Linked DNA regions of Homo sapiens: regions 1 and 2 are each reported to be linked to region 3. The links are microRNA targets in miRTarBase. Many come from high-throughput screens and were not tested one by one. Region 3 holds a microRNA gene; each other region holds the end of a gene's coding sequence.
What was found. The annotated mature microRNA hsa-miR-519b-3p reads AAAGUGCAUCCUUUUAGAGGUU and lies in region 3 at 1,776-1,797, shown strand. An mRNA with a match to its seed (bases 2 to 7 or 8) in the 3' UTR can be bound and repressed. Matches are read on the target gene's strand: a 7mer-m8 pairs with bases 2 to 8, a 7mer-A1 pairs with bases 2 to 7 and ends in A, and an 8mer does both.

Region 1: the mRNA of LIN52 is a reported target of hsa-miR-519b-3p. Seed matches in the 3' UTR shown: 7mer-A1 at 714-720.
Region 2: miRTarBase lists KBTBD2 as a target of hsa-miR-519b-3p. Seed matches in the 3' UTR shown: 8mer at 863-870.

The regions. Positions count from the first base shown.
Region 1 is chr14:74,198,493-74,201,752 of GRCh38, reverse strand. It overlaps LIN52 (lin-52 DREAM MuvB core complex component), which reads right to left. Exons shown (of 6, transcript NM_001024674.3): 6 at 260-2,831. The coding sequence ends at 2,776. Among named protein-coding and RNA genes, the nearest start is that of VSX2, 39 kb to the left of the region's middle.
Region 2 is chr7:32,866,509-32,869,768 of GRCh38, reverse strand. KBTBD2 (kelch repeat and BTB domain containing 2) reads left to right here. Exons shown (of 4, transcript NM_015483.3): 4 at 1-1,597. The coding sequence ends at 424. Among named protein-coding and RNA genes, the nearest start is that of KBTBD2, 24 kb to the left of the region's middle.
Region 3 is chr19:53,693,488-53,696,747 of GRCh38, forward strand. MIR519B (microRNA 519b) reads left to right here and starts at 1,726; the gene lies at 1,726-1,806. It overlaps MIR526B (microRNA 526b), which reads left to right and starts at 906; the gene lies at 906-988. It overlaps LOC107985342 (a long non-coding RNA gene), which reads left to right. Exons shown (of 3, transcript XR_007067332.1): 3 at 542-1,135.

The DNA.
Region 1 (3,260 bases), not on the chromosome of region 3:
AGGGATGATATGGGTAAATGCTATAGGAATGTAGGGGAAGGACCATTTCCAGCTGGATCATCAGGAGATTATAGGAAGCATAGGTTTGCCAGATGCAAAAGGGATCCAAGACCTTCTAGGAACTCAAAGGCAGGAGCAAAGGCACTCAAGTGAGAAACTGGGAACTGTTCAGAGTAACTGCAACAGAGACTTCATATATAGGAGAGGAAGAAAACGAAACGGAAGGGTTGCTTAGGATTACATGTAGAGAGTCTTAAAATGCCGGGTCAAGAGATTGAGACTTTATTAGTAGACACGGGAAGGTATTAAGGGTTTCTAAATACTACTTTCGGGTGTTGGGCAGTGGTAGGATAGAATGGAAGGCAGGAGACCAAGTAGATGACTGTAAAGCCCCCAACTATCCATTAAGTATATTAAGGGGGAAAACAGTAGATTATTTATCATTACAGTTGTACTTTCTGGGGAGGTCTGTGCTTTAAATATCCAACTCGGCCCTCTGAGGAAAAACTCACCCTCCTGTAAAAGGGACATATTTATTATGAAGACACAAAAACCATCACATACAAAGTACAATACTATAACATCCTGAAATACATATACACACATACTGTACATAAATTTATATTATCAATATAAAAATACATCATTAACATTTCTAAGGATGACAAATACTAAACCAATAAATATTGCAATTCTAAAACATCTACTTACATTAAGTGCTGGTGAATAGGATGACGGTAAAAGAAAGAGGACAAAGCGGACCAGAAAACCAACCACCTGGCTTCCAGTTACAGACTTGAGTTGGTTTGGGGGAGGTATCCCAATCAATTTCCCCAAACACTGAAAAGTGCCTGATGTCATCAACTCTCAAAAACAGAGCAAAGGAAGAATTTGACATTATGGCACTATTTTTTGGCCACATGCGCGCGCGCACACACACACACACACTCTTCAACCGCATTTAGTGAGATACAGAAATATCAATCGATAATAAGTTTAAATTAAAATCAAAGCCCCTACAACCTAACCTTCTATGTAGCACCCCAGCAGAATGTTTTACTTCTCATACTCATCTTTCCTATCTTGTGTTAAGTCTTTTTTCCTTTCAATAAGTAAAACTACATTGATGGTCAAATGAGAGAAAAATCCAGCATTAATTCTAGCATGAGAACAAGGCACAAATGTCAGAAAAGGTTTAATGGATCAGCTGTTAAACTGAAGAGTGCCATGCCCTAGCAAACACTCACGACTCAAAACCATAACTTTTCTTGTGTCCAAACACCATCAGACTATTGCCACAGGGATATTCTTTTTTTTTTTTTTTTTTTTTTTTTTTTTCTGAGACAGAGTCTCACTCTGTTGCCCAGGCTGGAGTGCAGTGGCATAATTTCGGCTCACTGCAACCTCCACCTCCCGAATTCAAGCGATTCTCGTGCCTCAGGCCCCCAAGTAGCTGGGACTATAGGCATGCACCATCATGCCCAGCTAATTTTTGTATTTTAGTAGAGACAGGGTTTCACCATATTGGCCAGGATGGTCTCGATCTTTTGACCTATGATCCACCTGCCTCGGCCTCCCAAAGTGCTGGGATTACAGGCGTGAGCCACCATGCCCGGCCCCAGGATATTCTTTTGTGCAAAGTTTAGGAAACTCCATGCACTTCTCAAAACATCAGATGCTGGGGACTGGCTTATACAAGAAATATGGAGAACACATATAATAGATTTTAGCCATGGGCTAGATTTTCAGATTTTAACAGAGACAGATAAGTGGTGAAGAACTCCATGAAAGTTGTATTTAAGTCAGAAGATTCTTTTTCGTGTGTGTGCGTTTCTATTATATAGATGAACTATTTCATATGTGCTGTCAGAGGGGACAATCCCACCATCCCATAGCATGTTACTTTAAGGTCAATTAGGGCTTCTAGCTTTCAACCAAATGGGAACTCCTATAAACCATCCCGTTTCTCTTGTCTTTCAGGCTATACTGACTTTCTTGCTTGAAGCTGTAACAGATTAATTAGAACTCAAAAGTCCTTTCTGTCACCTTCACATTGGTCTTTAGACAACCTTGGATGGGCCTTTCACTATACAAGCTAATTCCAGGAGGGACTCAGGGATCCCTCTGCCCGAAGTCAGAACTAGAAGGTGGGGCTGGGAAGTAAGGAATGAAAAGCAAATGGGACTATCATAAGAGGTATAGAAGTTTTAAAAAACAGATATACATTTCGAGAAGATTCTGGTTTCTTCAGCTGGGGATTCTGGGAACTTAGTATATACTGGAGAGTTCACAGGTCAGGCTGCATGGTCTGGTCCAGAATCTACTTGGTCTCTGGTCTCCTCACATCGTAAACACTTTCTAAGAGATCAAGAACAATTCAAAAGAACCCATCCAATCAACATGTCACAACTGACTGCCATGACTGAGTCAAATCAACCGTAAGATCCTGGGGCTCCTGAATCACTTCCAGAAATGAGAAAGCAGGACTTCGACCTTTAAGAATGATATGCCCTCAGCTGTTACCAATATCCGAGGCTAAGAAGGTTCAAGTCTGAAAGTTGATTGAGTAACTGCAATGATCCTTGGGTAGAGCAGATTCTTCTCTTGCTGCTGAATGTCCTCAGACGTGTAGAGTGCCAGGAGCAGGGGAGAGGGCAGTCCTGGAGGTACACCCTCTGGCCTCTCCCAAGCAAGCAGTGAGGTGTGCATTGTTAGAGGTGCACCGGGAAGGGAGCTTGGTTTCGGACCCCAGGACATCCTGTCCGCAAGCAGCTGCTACTTCTTGGGCTTCTCTAGAATATTGAGGAATTTCCCCCGTGTCATCTCTCTGGCTGGAATCACAAAGCAAACAAATGATCAATGAAAACCTAAAATCGGAAAAAAGAATCATAGGAAGATTTAATTTAAAAATGCAGATTGATTTAAATTATATATCAAGTTGCTATCACAACAGATTCAATCATCACCAACTAACCTAAAAGGGGGTAAAAACAAACCACTATAGACAACTAAAACTGTACAAAGCTATTCTGAAGTTGGCAATTGAGATACATGCCAAATGACTGGGAAAGATTTTATCATCCACCTTTAAACAAATCACCAGGGGATTCCCCCAAAACCTATCTCTGTCTCTAGAATCTAACCTAATACTCATGTTCACTATCTCAGGGGGTTTGCTCTTGAAGCCTAAAATCCAACCAAGATTAGTCTTCTCTGGGTTGCTGGTCTCTGGACATTTATAATCTCAAATCAAAATTAGA
Region 2 (3,260 bases), not on the chromosome of region 3:
CGGCATAAGACTCCCCTCTGGCACTGTAGATGGGTCTTCAGTAACTGTGGAAATTTATGATGTGAATAAAAATGAGTGGAAAATGGCAGCCAACATCCCTGCTAAGAGGTACTCTGACCCCTGTGTTAGAGCTGTTGTGATCTCAAATTCTCTATGTGTGTTTATGCGAGAAACCCACTTAAATGAGCGAGCTAAATACGTCACCTACCAATATGACCTGGAACTTGACCGGTGGTCTCTGCGGCAGCATATATCTGAACGTGTACTGTGGGACTTGGGGAGAGATTTTCGATGCACTGTGGGGAAACTCTATCCATCCTGCCTTGAAGAGTCTCCATGGAAACCACCAACTTATCTTTTTTCAACGGATGGGACAGAAGAGTTTGAACTGGATGGAGAAATGGTTGCACTACCACCTGTATAGTGGGGAAGTTCAGGGAGTGCACGCCTGAGTTATGTGCTTTGTCATTTTCTTTGCTAAACAAAAGAGGCTATGAAAGAACTAAATATGAGTACATAAAATTCTATCTTTGATAAATTTTATTTTTATGCCCTACTTAATATTTGCATCAGTATAATATATATCAGTGAGTCTTACAGAAAGATATGCTTCCATAATATGAAATAGATTATTCAATAATTGAGAAACTTTATGTGTAATCATGAGAGTATAAGAATCTGGATTATCTAACATTGTTAGCCCTGTGTATGTACAGTTCAAAAAGTTCATTTATAAAAGTAGTTTCCTGTTCCTAGTGTGATGTATCACAAATTGTGCTGAGGTTATTTTAGTATGTGTGTTTCATTCCCGTGCTTCTGTTCTGAAGTCCTGGAATACAGTTTTCAGTGTAATTAATTCAACTGCACTTAACACTAATGTCCGTGTTGGTATAGAAATGTCTAAATCCTATACTCTAGTTGAGGAAGATCTTCCATAATTTTATGGTATTACACAGGGAAAGCTATGACTGCAGGATCAGTCTAACTATACTATTAGGTGCATGTATTCTCTTTTCACTAACTTATACTTGTCTATCTAGAATACAGGTCTTCCAGTCAGCTGGTCATTTACCAGGTGTGGACTTAAGTTGCTAGGCTTGCAGTAAGAATTGCCAGCCACTCATTGTGCGGGTCTGCGTGGAGCTTTAATCAGAAAAAGCCTCCACTTTCTGTATTATGTTAACATTGGCTCATGCATATAACTATCTGCTGCTGATGTAGTTCTCCATCTTCAAGATTTAGAGTGGGTTAACCAGGTCATTACATCTTAATTTAATAACAAGCATTACTGTAGAGTGATTGTGTATAGATCTGTTAGCTGTCAGGGTGTGTTTTTTTTAACCTGTTGTGTGCGTGTGGGGGTTAGGATTAGTAAGGTGAACTGTTCAGGAATTCTCTGCACTAGCTGTGCAGAAGAGCAGATAACTAGCGCTGCTCTGGCATTAATCCCAGGAACCACTAGCAGTAGTGGGGCGCCGCCAATCTAACATGAGCACAGGTGCTTCATGACAAACATTACTAGCATGTTCAACTGCACCATGTTCTGGCACTGTATTTTGAATGACATTAATTTATTAAATAAATTGTATATATTCAATATCTATTTTTCTTTTGTTATGGGAATGGTCTGCTTTTTAAATTTTGATTTTGCTAGGTCAAACTTAGCTAGTAATAGGTGGTTTCTTCCAAATTTTGTTTGATGAAGATTGAGAGATATGCATAGGCTTTCCTTAGGCTAGTGTCTTTCTACCCTGCTGGCATGTTAGAATCATCTGATTCTGATCATCATCTTTAGAAGCTTGAGATGATGCCTGAACCTCACCCCAAACAAAATGGTTTCTTTTTAGAGCACATCATTGATCATGTTTATAGACTTGAACTGCCCCTCCACTGCCTACTGAATGAAGTCCAGATTCCTTACCACATTTAAGGCTCTCTCTAATTTGGCTTTAAATTACCTTTACAGCCCTACCTTGCATTGTTTTTCCATAAGCCTTATCTTCTGATTAGGCTTTCGCTATGCTTTATGCTTTTTTATGCTATTCATGCTACTCAGAATGGTTTCTTCATCCCAACTTTACTTGCAGCTGTCTCAAGAGCTATTTAAGGCAGTTTTTAAAGAATGTTTCCTGATAACCATGTCTTACCATGAGGTGAAAAGTATCCTTTCTCACATTTTTACTACCTTGTACCTAGATCTTATTAATTGTACTGATCATTCTATTGACTATTACTAGTTTTGGCCAGGTGGGGTGGCTTATGCCTGTAATCCCAGCACTTTGGGAGGCCTAAGTGGGAGGAATGTTTGAGCCCAGGAATTTGAGACCAGCCTGGGCAACATAGGGAGACCCTGTCTCTACCAAAAAAATAAATAAATAAAATTAGCTAGTCATGGTGGTGTGTAGTCCCAGCTACTAGGGAGGCTGCAGTGGGAGAATCACTTAACCCTGGAAGGTCAAGGCTGGAGTGAGCCTTGACTGTGCCACTGCACTCCATCCTGGGTGACAAGACTGAGACCCCATCTCTAAAAGATAAGATAAATGAATATTATTAGTCTTCATGCTTTTCTACAAAATGATCAGTGTTGATTGTCTTATTTACGGCTGCATCCCCCTGCAGTGTAGCACAGCACACTGTATAGTTGGTGATAAAACTGTTGGATTAAAGCAGATAAATACGAAGAGCTTTGGAAAGTTTGAGAGTCAAACCCAATATGCCAGTTTTTTAATTCTCATTAGTAGTTCCATTAGTAACCTTTTCACTTACCTCTCCATCCAGCTCAGATCTGTCATCTTAATACTTCTGCCACTATCATGGCAATATCTTAAACTCCTTTTGCCCTGTTGTCATTAACTTATAACTGACAAAACCTGAGCCTTACATGAGTACAACTCTATCTTCCTTACTACTTTTTTCTTTTCTTTTTCTTTCTTTTTTTTTCTTTTTTTTTTTTTGAAAAGTTGCTGTGTGATGATGGAGGCAGAAATTAGAGTTATGTAGCTGCACACCAGGGAACACCAAGCATTGCCTACAACCACAGAAACTGGAACATGAGCATGGCCATTGATACGGTTTGGCTCTGTGTCCCCACCCAAAATCATGTCGGATTGTAATTCCCAGTGTTGGAGGTAGGGCCTGGTGGGAGGTGATTGGATCATGGTGGCAGAGTTCTCATGAGTGGTTTAGCACCATGCCTCATTAGTACTGGTTTTATAGTGGGAGAGTGGTCATGATCTGTTTTTTTTTTTTTAAAGTGTGTG
Region 3 (3,260 bases):
GGAACTTTCTTTGAGACAGGGTCTCAAAAATACATGATGTATATTTCATTTTATATTCTTATATATTATGTACACACAAAATACTCTTCTAAACACAGAGAATACTCCGATATCACCTAGGGTGTGTGTGCGTGTGCGTGTGTGTGCGTGTGTGTGTGGTTCTTTTCTGAGACAATATCTGCCTCTGTCACCCAAGATGGAGTGTGGTGGTGCAATCTCGGCTTACTGCAACCTCCACCTCCCACCTAAGCCTGCTGAATTAGTCTCTACAGGCATGCACCACCACACCTGGCTAACTTCTGTAATTTTTGTACACATGGGGTCTCGCCATGTTGCCGGGGCTGGTCTCGAGCTCCTGAGGCAGGTGATCCTCCTGCCTGGGCCTCCTAAAGTTCGAGGAGTTAGAGGTCTGAGCCACTGGGCCCCACTTGTACTTGTGTATTTCTGCTCAAATTTTATTGAGTAGTTTTTACATCCTAGCCTGTGATCTACTCTGGAGAGTGTTTGTGCATATGACAGTGTATATTCTTCAACATCGTAGACTCCATTTTGGATGCTCCCTTCGTGACTGTGGGTCCTGTACTGGAACTCGAGTGAACACTTGGCTTAAAATCCATTGCTGTTCTCCAGAAATCCTGCCCAATTTTCTCGGTTAAAGGTACGTGTAGTAGGCATTGCTTTTTCTCTTTGGGGACAAAACTCAGGAGGATTGCCCCTTGATGAACAAGGCTAACCTGCTGATTCTTTGAAGCAAGGAACTGGAGATGGTCCTTATAGAGTTTTATATTCTGGATTCCATAAAACATGCATACAGGGTCAATAAATGCATCTTTATTTTTGTGTCTATTTTAACTTGGTCAAAGAAAATTCCAGGAAAAAATCCACGGCATCAGAGCAAGAAGATGTCAGGCTGTGACCCTCTTGAGGGAAGCACTTTCTGTTGTCTGAAAGAAGAGAAAGTGCTTCCTTTTAGAGGCTTACTGTCTGAGAAAAGCAACGTTGTAGTTGATGCTGATCTTTGTAATATCTTTGCAGAGCACGCTTATAATCAGACTTGGATGATGTTGGGGTTTTGTTTTTCTTTTGTTTTTTTATCTAAGACTGGGTCTCTGTTGCCCAGGCTGAAGTGCAGTGGCACAATCTTGGCTCACCACAACCTCCGCCTCCCGGGTTCAAGTGATTCTTCTGCCTCAGCCTCCCAAGTAGCTGGGATTATAGGACTGCGCCACCATGCCTGGCTAATTTTGTATTTTTAGTAGAGACAGGGTTTCTTTAGGAGCTTTTAAGGCCTCCCTTGTAGTCTATCCTGGAGGATGTTTGTGTGTGCAACAATGTATATTCTTCAACATGGTAGATTCCATTTTGACTGCTCTAATCAGGACTGTGTGTCCCTGTGCTGGAAATCAAGTGAACACTTGGCTGAAAATCCACTGCTGTTCTCTAGAAATCCAGCCCAATTCTCTTGGTTAAATATAAGGTATGCATAGTAGGCATTGCTTTTTCTTTCTGGACACAAAACTCAGGAGGATTTCCCCTTGATGAACAAGGCTAACCTGCTGAGCCTTTGTAGGAAGGAACGGGAGATGGTCTTTTTAGGGGTCTATGTTCTGGATTCCAGAAAACATGCAAACAGAGCCAATAAATAGGTCTTTATTTTTGTCTCTATTTTAACCTGGTCAAGGAAAATTTCTACAAAAAACCCAGGGTGCTGGAGCAAGAAGATCCCATGCTGTGACCCTCTAGAGGGAAGCGCTTTCTGTTGTCTGAAAGAAAAGAAAGTGCATCCTTTTAGAGGTTTACTGTTTGAGGAAAGCAACAGTGAAGTTGATGCTGATCTTGGTAATACATTTGCAGAGCATGCTTATCATCAGACTTGGATGATGGTGGGATTCTGTTTTTATTTTGTTTTTTTTTCTAAGACAGAGTCTCTCTTGCCCAGGCTGGAGTAGGGTAGCACTTCCAACGTAGATCTTTTAGGCTCAAACGGTCCTCTTTTTTTTTTTTTTTTTTTTGAGGCGGAGTCTTGCTCTGTGACCCAGACGAGAGTGCAATGGCGCGATCTTGTGTGCAAGCTCACCTCCTGAGTTCAAGCAATTCTTCTGCCCCAGCCTCCCAAGTAGCTGGGACTACAGGTGCCTGCCACCACTTCCAGCTAATTTTTGTATTTTTAGTAGAGACAGGGTTTCACCACGTTGGCCAGGCTGGTCTCAAACTACTGACCTCAAGATCCACCCACCTCAGCCTCCCAAAGTGCTGGGATTACAGGCGTGGGCCATTGTGCCCAGCGGTCCTCTTTTTTGAGATGGAGTCTTGCTCTGTGACCCAGGCTGGAGTGCAGTGGCAGGAACTTCGCTCCCTGTACCCTCCACCTCCCAGATTCAAGCCATTCTCTCCTGAGTCAGCCTCCCTAGTAGCTGAGATCGCAGACATGAGCCACCATACCCAGCTAATTTTTGTATTTTTATTATTTATTTATTTACTCATCGATTTTTGAAACAGAGTCTTACTCCGTCCATCAGGCTGGAGGTCAGTGGCACAATCCCACGTTCAAGCAATTCTCCTGCCTCATCCTCCCGAGTAGCTGGGATCACAGGCGCACACCACCACGCCCGGCTAATTTTTGTGTTTTTTTTGTTTGTTCGTTTTTTTTTTTTTTGTAGAGACAGGGTTTCAACATGTTGGCCAGCCCAGTCTCCAACTCCTGACCTTAAGTGAGCCCATACACAATCAAGAAGAGAGCGAGACCTGTTCTTTTTTTCTGTCTTTGACTATTTGAGACAGTCTTGCTCTGTCACCCGAGATGGAGTACATTAGTGTGATCTTGGCTCACTGCAACCTCTGCCTCCTGGACTCAAGCAATTCTCTTTTTTTTTTTTTTGGAGAAAGAGCCTCTCTGTGTCTCCCAGGCTGGACTGCAGTGGTGTGATCTCAGCTCACTGCAACCTCAGCCTTCCAAGTAGCTGGGATTGCAGACATGTACCCCCATACCAGCTATATATATATATGTATTTTAGACACAGTTTCACCATGTTAGCCAGGCCATTCTTGAATCCTGACCTCAGGTGATTTGCCGACGTAGGCCTCCCGAAGTGCTGGGATTACAGGTATGAGCCACTGCACTCAGCCTTTTTTCCTAATTTTGAATATGGGACCCATTATGAATTTGGGTGTCACCTATGTGCGGGGGCTATGGAAATCTCTGTCACCCCATTCATTTGTGTGTGCTGTCAAAGCACCAATATGTGGGAATTATGCTTTAT